Regions from separate parts of the Homo sapiens genome. Here region 2 is linked to region 1. The links come from fine-mapping of genetic effects on gene expression. A gene starts in region 1. The other region holds a variant in brackets. All regions are shown on one strand. Distances are between the middles of the regions.

Evidence for each region. PIP is the estimated chance that this variant, and not a neighbour inherited with it, causes the effect.
Region 2: its variant is fine-mapped to the expression of BAX in esophagus mucosa (GTEx, PIP above 0.99).

What each region holds. Positions count from the first base shown.
Region 1 is chr19:48,953,349-48,956,252 of GRCh38, reverse strand. It overlaps BAX (BCL2 associated X, apoptosis regulator), which reads right to left and starts at 1,378. Exons shown (of 6, transcript NM_138761.4): 1 at 1,291-1,378; 2 at 654-705; 3 at 420-566; 4 at 1-55. The coding sequence starts at 1,324. RefSeq lists enhancers at 904-1,113, 563-1,130, 1,131-1,699 and a silencer at 1,234-1,383.
Region 2 is chr19:48,924,345-48,927,248 of GRCh38, reverse strand. No RefSeq gene overlaps it. Among named protein-coding and RNA genes, the nearest start is that of NUCB1-AS1, 6.9 kb to the right of the region's middle. RefSeq lists a silencer at 43-337. The variant C/A (reference allele first, on the strand shown) is at 1,758.

The DNA.
Region 1 (2,904 bases):
TGCCACTCGGAAAAAGACCTCTCGGGGGGAGTCTGTGTCCACGGCGGCAATCATCCTGCAGGAGAGAGGAGAACCAGTGCCGGGGAGCAGGCATCAGGCTGATGGTGGAAAATTCCCGCATCCACCGCACACTAAAGATAAGGAGACTGAGCCCCAAGCCAGGCTGAAATGAAAAGCAACAGGCCAACGGGGGACAAGGGAAGGGGACAAGACAGACATTTAGGAAGGTGGGAAAAATGACTCCCTGAAGGAGGGTTTTAAGATCCTGGCAGAGAGGAGGGCTGGGAGTCCGGAATGTTTGCGCTGAGTTGTGGGGCCCAGACTCCTAGTTCTTAGGGGAGGAGGAGAATGCGGGGCTGAGAGTCCTGTGTCCTGAAGGAGCCCAGTGGCTGGACTTCTGGGTCCTCAGGGGCCCACACCTCTGCAGCTCCATGTTACTGTCCAGTTCGTCCCCGATGCGCTTGAGACACTCGCTCAGCTTCTTGGTGGACGCATCCTGAGGCACCGGGTCCAGGGCCAGCTCGGGTGCCTCCCCCCCCATTCGCCCTGCTCGATCCTGGATGAAACTAGAGTGGGGATGGAGTGAGGGTGCAGAATCAGAACGGGGTGTCACTCCTCAAATCTGTGCCACAATAATCAGACCTCAAACTCACCCCTGAAGCAAAAGGGCCCCTGTCTTCATGATCTGCTCAGAGCTGGTGGGCCCTAGAGGAGAAAGGAAGGGAAGAGGTACCTGGACTCTTGGGTTCTAGGGGATCAGGAGACTGTGGAGACTCACGGCCCCTGAGGGAGGACAGAGCTGGGGACCCTGGACTTCTGGGACCCTAGCAGATAAAGTGACGGGGGGGCCCAGACAACTGAGTCCCTGATGGAGAAAGGCCAGGAGGCTGGGCCTGTATCCTACATTCTCCCCGGGGAAAGAGGCTAGGGGAACGCTATATGCATCCAGACCCCTGGCCTGAGGGGGCAGAGGCGAGACCCGCCCCTCCCACCAGTGCCAGAGGCAGGAAGTGGTGCGGGCGACAAGCCCGGGCCTGCCCGGGGGCTTGGCTTCCGAGATCCCCTGGTTCTCGAGGGTCCGAGAGCGCCAGAGAGGCAGGGATCGGGACACGGGGATCAGAGAGCCAGGAACCTCCGAGGACGGAGGGGACTGGAGGCTGGCAGCGCCCGATCCGGGAGTTTCTGCCCCTCAGTGCTTGGAGATCGCACAGCCCCAGGCCGGTAGGAAGGATCCCGGACGGGCCGGCGAGGGGGCTCGCCCTCCTCCCGCCCGTCTGCCTCCCGCCTCACCCCCGCCTCTGGGCTGCTCCCCGGACCCGTCCATCACCGCCGCTCCCGCCGCCGCCTCTCGCCGGGTCCGCGCGGGCGGCCGCAGCGCGCCCGGGTCACGTGAGAGCCCCGCTGAACGTGCGTCCTTCACGTGGCCGCCCCGCAAAATGGCCGCTGCCCCGCAGCGCCGCCGGGTCACGTGACCGCACCTGCCTCGCTCCCTCGGGAGGTTTGGTCCCGTCACGTGACTGTCCAATGAGCATCTCCCGATAAGTGCCAGCAGTGGCGCCGTCCAACAGCCGTCCGTCCAATCGCAGCTCTAATGCCTTCATTTATCCAGGCACCATTTTTAGAAGTTTCGGGCAGGGTTTGAGCTCTCCCCAGCGCAGAAGGAATTAGCAAGTGCAAAAGCTCAGAGGCCCAAAATAGCATGCTTCCAGGCAGGACGTTATAGATGACTAAAAACTGAGTGGTTTTGTTTTTTGCAGAGACCTGGATCTAGCAATATAGCCCACGCCCAGGCTTGTCTCTAACTTGTGAGCCCAAGAGATAACCCCGTCTCAGCCTTCCAAAGCGCTGGGATTACAGGCATGAGCTACCGCGCCAGGCCTGCTTTTCTGTTTGTTTGTTTTTTCCTGTTTTTTTTTTTTTTTTTTTTGAGACAGGGTCTCACTGTGTTGCCCAGGCTGGAGTGCAGTGGCCCAATCATGGCTCACTGCAGTCTGGAATTCCCGGGCTGAAGCCTCCCACCTCAGCCTCCTGAGTAGCTGGGACTACACCGCCCCTGGTTAATTTTTAAAACTTTTTATGTGGAGATGAGGTCTCTCTATGTTGCCCAGGCTGGTCTCTGAACTCCCAGACTCAAGCGATCCTCGCACCTTGGCCTCCCAAAGTGCTGAGATTACAGGCTTGAGCCACCCCACCCAGTCATGACTCGAATGTTTGTGTTTGTGTAAAAAGAAAAGGAATATGAAGTTTAAAAAGTGGCAGAAACTAATCTGTGCTGATAGATCAGCAGGGTATGGAGGGGAGGGGCCACAAGAGACACTCCCCGGGTGCCCCAAATATGCCATATTTTTATCTGAATGGTGTTTACATGGGTATACACATTATTATTATTATTATTATTATTATTATTATTATTATTTTGAGACGGAGTTTTGCTCTTGTTGCCCAGGATGGAGTGCAATGGCACGATCTCGGCTTACTGCAACCTCTGCCTCCGGGTTCAAGCAATTCTCCTGCCTCAGCCTCCCAAGTAGCTGGAATTGCAGGCATGCGACACCACGCCCAGCTAATTTTGTATTTTTAGTAAAGATGGGGTTTCACTATGTTGGTCAGGCTGGTCTCAAGCTCCTGACCTCAAGTGATCCACCTGCCTCGGCCTCCCAAAGTGCTGGGATTACAGGCGTGAGCCACTGTGCCCGGCCGGGTATACACATATTTACAATTCATTGAGCTGTACACATAAGACTTGTGTGCTTTATGAATATTATGACATGTCACTTTAGACAGAAAATAATAGCAACTAAGGAAAACTCAGAAAAATGAGCTAGGATCAGATGATAAAGGGTTTGGGCCTGTCAGAGAAGGGACTTGATCTATGTCCAGAAGGCCGCTGGGAAGCATGGGGAA
Region 2 (2,904 bases), 29 kb after region 1:
ATAGGCATGAGCCACTGCACCCAGCCTGCCGTGTGACTTCTGACTAACCCGAAACTGGGAATGCCTCCAACATGTCTAACGGATGTGTTACTCTTTATGTAGAAACACGTACTTACCAGCCTTTCCTCCAGAACAAGCCTTGATGTTGTCACATCCATCACAAGATGTATCGCCCATAGCCACCTACGCGTTTCTTCCAGAGCACAGATATGCTTTCCTCGAGATAGAAGCCCTGTGTCTGGGGGTTGCAGGGTGTGATCTATCTGTCTTGCTGCTGCCCAAGACCACACTTCTTTTTTTTTTTTTTCCAGACAGGGTCTTGCTTTGTAGCCCAGGCTGGAGTGCAGTGGCGTGAGCTCGGCTCACTGCAGTCTCCACCTCCCGGGTTCAAGTGATTCTCCTGCCTCAACCTCTCCAGTAGCTGGGATTACAGGCGCCCACCACCACACCTGGCTAATTTTTGTATTTTTAGTGGAGACAAGTTTCACCATGTCAGTCAGGCTGGTCTCGAACTCCTGACCCCAAGTGAGCCACCTGCCTCGGCCTCCCAAAGTGCTGGGATTCCAGGCATAAGCCACCATGCCTGGCGAAGACCACACTCTAAGTTTCCCCCTAATAAACCACCCTGTATTGACAAACTAGATGGGTCGGCCTCATTCTTTGGTTTCTTGGCTCCTTCGGCATTTGGGGACCGCTTTGCCTATATGAACCTTTCAAAGAACACCATTTAGGCCCGTTTTCCAGATTGGGTCACTGAAGCTCAACTCCCCTCATTTTCTGAGAGAGGCAAAGAGAGGCTGCAGCTGATGTTTGCTATGCTCATTGTTCAGGTGCAGCTGGGAGGGCATGACACACATATAGCTTCCCAGGACATTCCAGGATCTGGGAATATGTATTTTTGTTTTGTTTTGTTCTGAGACAGAGTCCCGCTTGGTCACCCAGGCTGATGTGCAGCGTTGCAATCACCGCTTCCCAGGCCCAAGCGATCCTTTCACCTCAGCCTCCCAAGTAGCTGGGACTACAGGCATGTGCCACCACACCCAGCTAATTTTTTTTTTTTTCTTGAGATGGAGTCTTGCTCTGTCACCCAGGCTGGAGTACAGTAGTGTGATCTTGGCTCACTGCAACCTCTGCCTCCCAGGTTCAAGTGATTCTTGTGCCTCAGCCTCCCTGAGTAGCTGGGATTACAGGTGTACACCACCACGCCCGGCTAATTTTGGTATTTTTTTGTAGAGACGGGGTTTCACGTTGCCCAGGCTGGGCTTGAATTCCTGCCCTCAAGTGATCCGCCCACATCAGCCTCCCAAAGTGCTGGGATTATAGTTGTGAGTGACTGCGCCTGGCCCTATTTATTTATTTTTTTACATAGAGATGGGGTCTCCCTATATTGCCCAGGTTGGCCTCAAACTCCTGGGCTCAAAGGATCCTTCCTCCTTGGCCTCCTGAAGCGTTGGGATTATAGGCATCAGCCACTGTGCCCGGCCTATTTATTTTTCTCGAGAAAGGGTCTTGCCCTGTCTCCCAGGCTGGAGTGCAGTGGCGTGGTCATGGCTCACTGTAGCCTTAACCTTCTGTGGCCAAGCGATTCTTCTGTCCTTAAGCCTCCTGAGTAGCTGGGACCACAGGTGCATGCCACAACACCCGGCTAATTTTTTTTTTTTTTTTTTTTTTTTTTTTAGAGATGAGGTCTTGCTATGTTGCTCAGGCTGGTCTTGAGCTCTGAGCTTGAGTCATCCTCCTGTCATCCTCTCCTGAAA[C/A]CCCCCACCCTGCCCATCCCTGGCCTCCAAAGTGCTGAGCTTATAGGCATGAACCACTGTGCCTGGCCAGAATTTCATTTAAACAAATACTCCTGGCCGGGCGTGGTGGCTCAGGCCTGTAATCCCAACACTGTGGGAGGCCGAGGCGGGGGGATCACCTGAGGTCAGGAGTTCTCAAGACCAGCCTGACCAACATGGTGAAAGCCCCATCTCTACTAAAAATACAGAAAAATTAGCCGGGTGTGTGCTGGGCACCTGTAATCCCAGCTACTCAGGAGACTGAGGCAGGAGAATCGCTTGAACCCAGGAGGCAGAGGTTGCAGTAAACCGAGATCGCGTCATCGTACTCCAGCCTGGGAGACAGAGCAAGACTCTGTCTCCAAAAACAAAACAAAACAAAAACAAATATTCCCCGCTTGCTTTTTACCAGACCCCAACTTGGTCCAAGGAAAGCATCCCCATCCCAGGTGAGGATGAAATCACCACTGGTGGATGCCAGCTTGGTGGATCTGTCTGCAGCTGTCACTGACCTGTGCCTCACAGCCAGTGGGATATAAGGGAACATGAGGAGAGGGCTGAAAGGAGAGGGAACTCTGGGGACAGATTTTCTCCCACTTAACAATGCCCAGAACAGAATGCGGCCTCTTCCTTCACTGGCTGTTGGTGACATCTGGAGCAGCTGCAGCTACCTTGGGACCATGAGGGGGGGTCCAGCCCCCAAACCTATCCTTGGCACAGCTAGGGGATGCGAGAACCTGGTTCCCTGAAGTCATCCTGCCTTGGGACATCTTGGTTTTTATCATAATTCATTTTTATTTATTCTTTTTTCTATTAGAGACAGGGCCTCATTCTGTCACCCAGCCTGGAGTGCAGTGGAGTGATAGATCATGGCTCACTGCAGCCTCAAACTCCAGGGCTCAAGGGATCCTCCCACACCAGCCTCCTAAGCAGCTGAGACTACAGGCACACACTACCATGCCCAGCTAATTTTTTTTCTTTTTCTGAGACGGGGTCTCGCTATGTTGCCCAGGCTGGTCTCAAACTCCTAAGCTCAAGTGATCCTCTTGCCTCAGCCTTCTTTTTTTCAGACAGAGTCTCGCTCTGTCACCCAGGCTGGAGTGCAGTGGCATGATCTCGGCTCACTGCA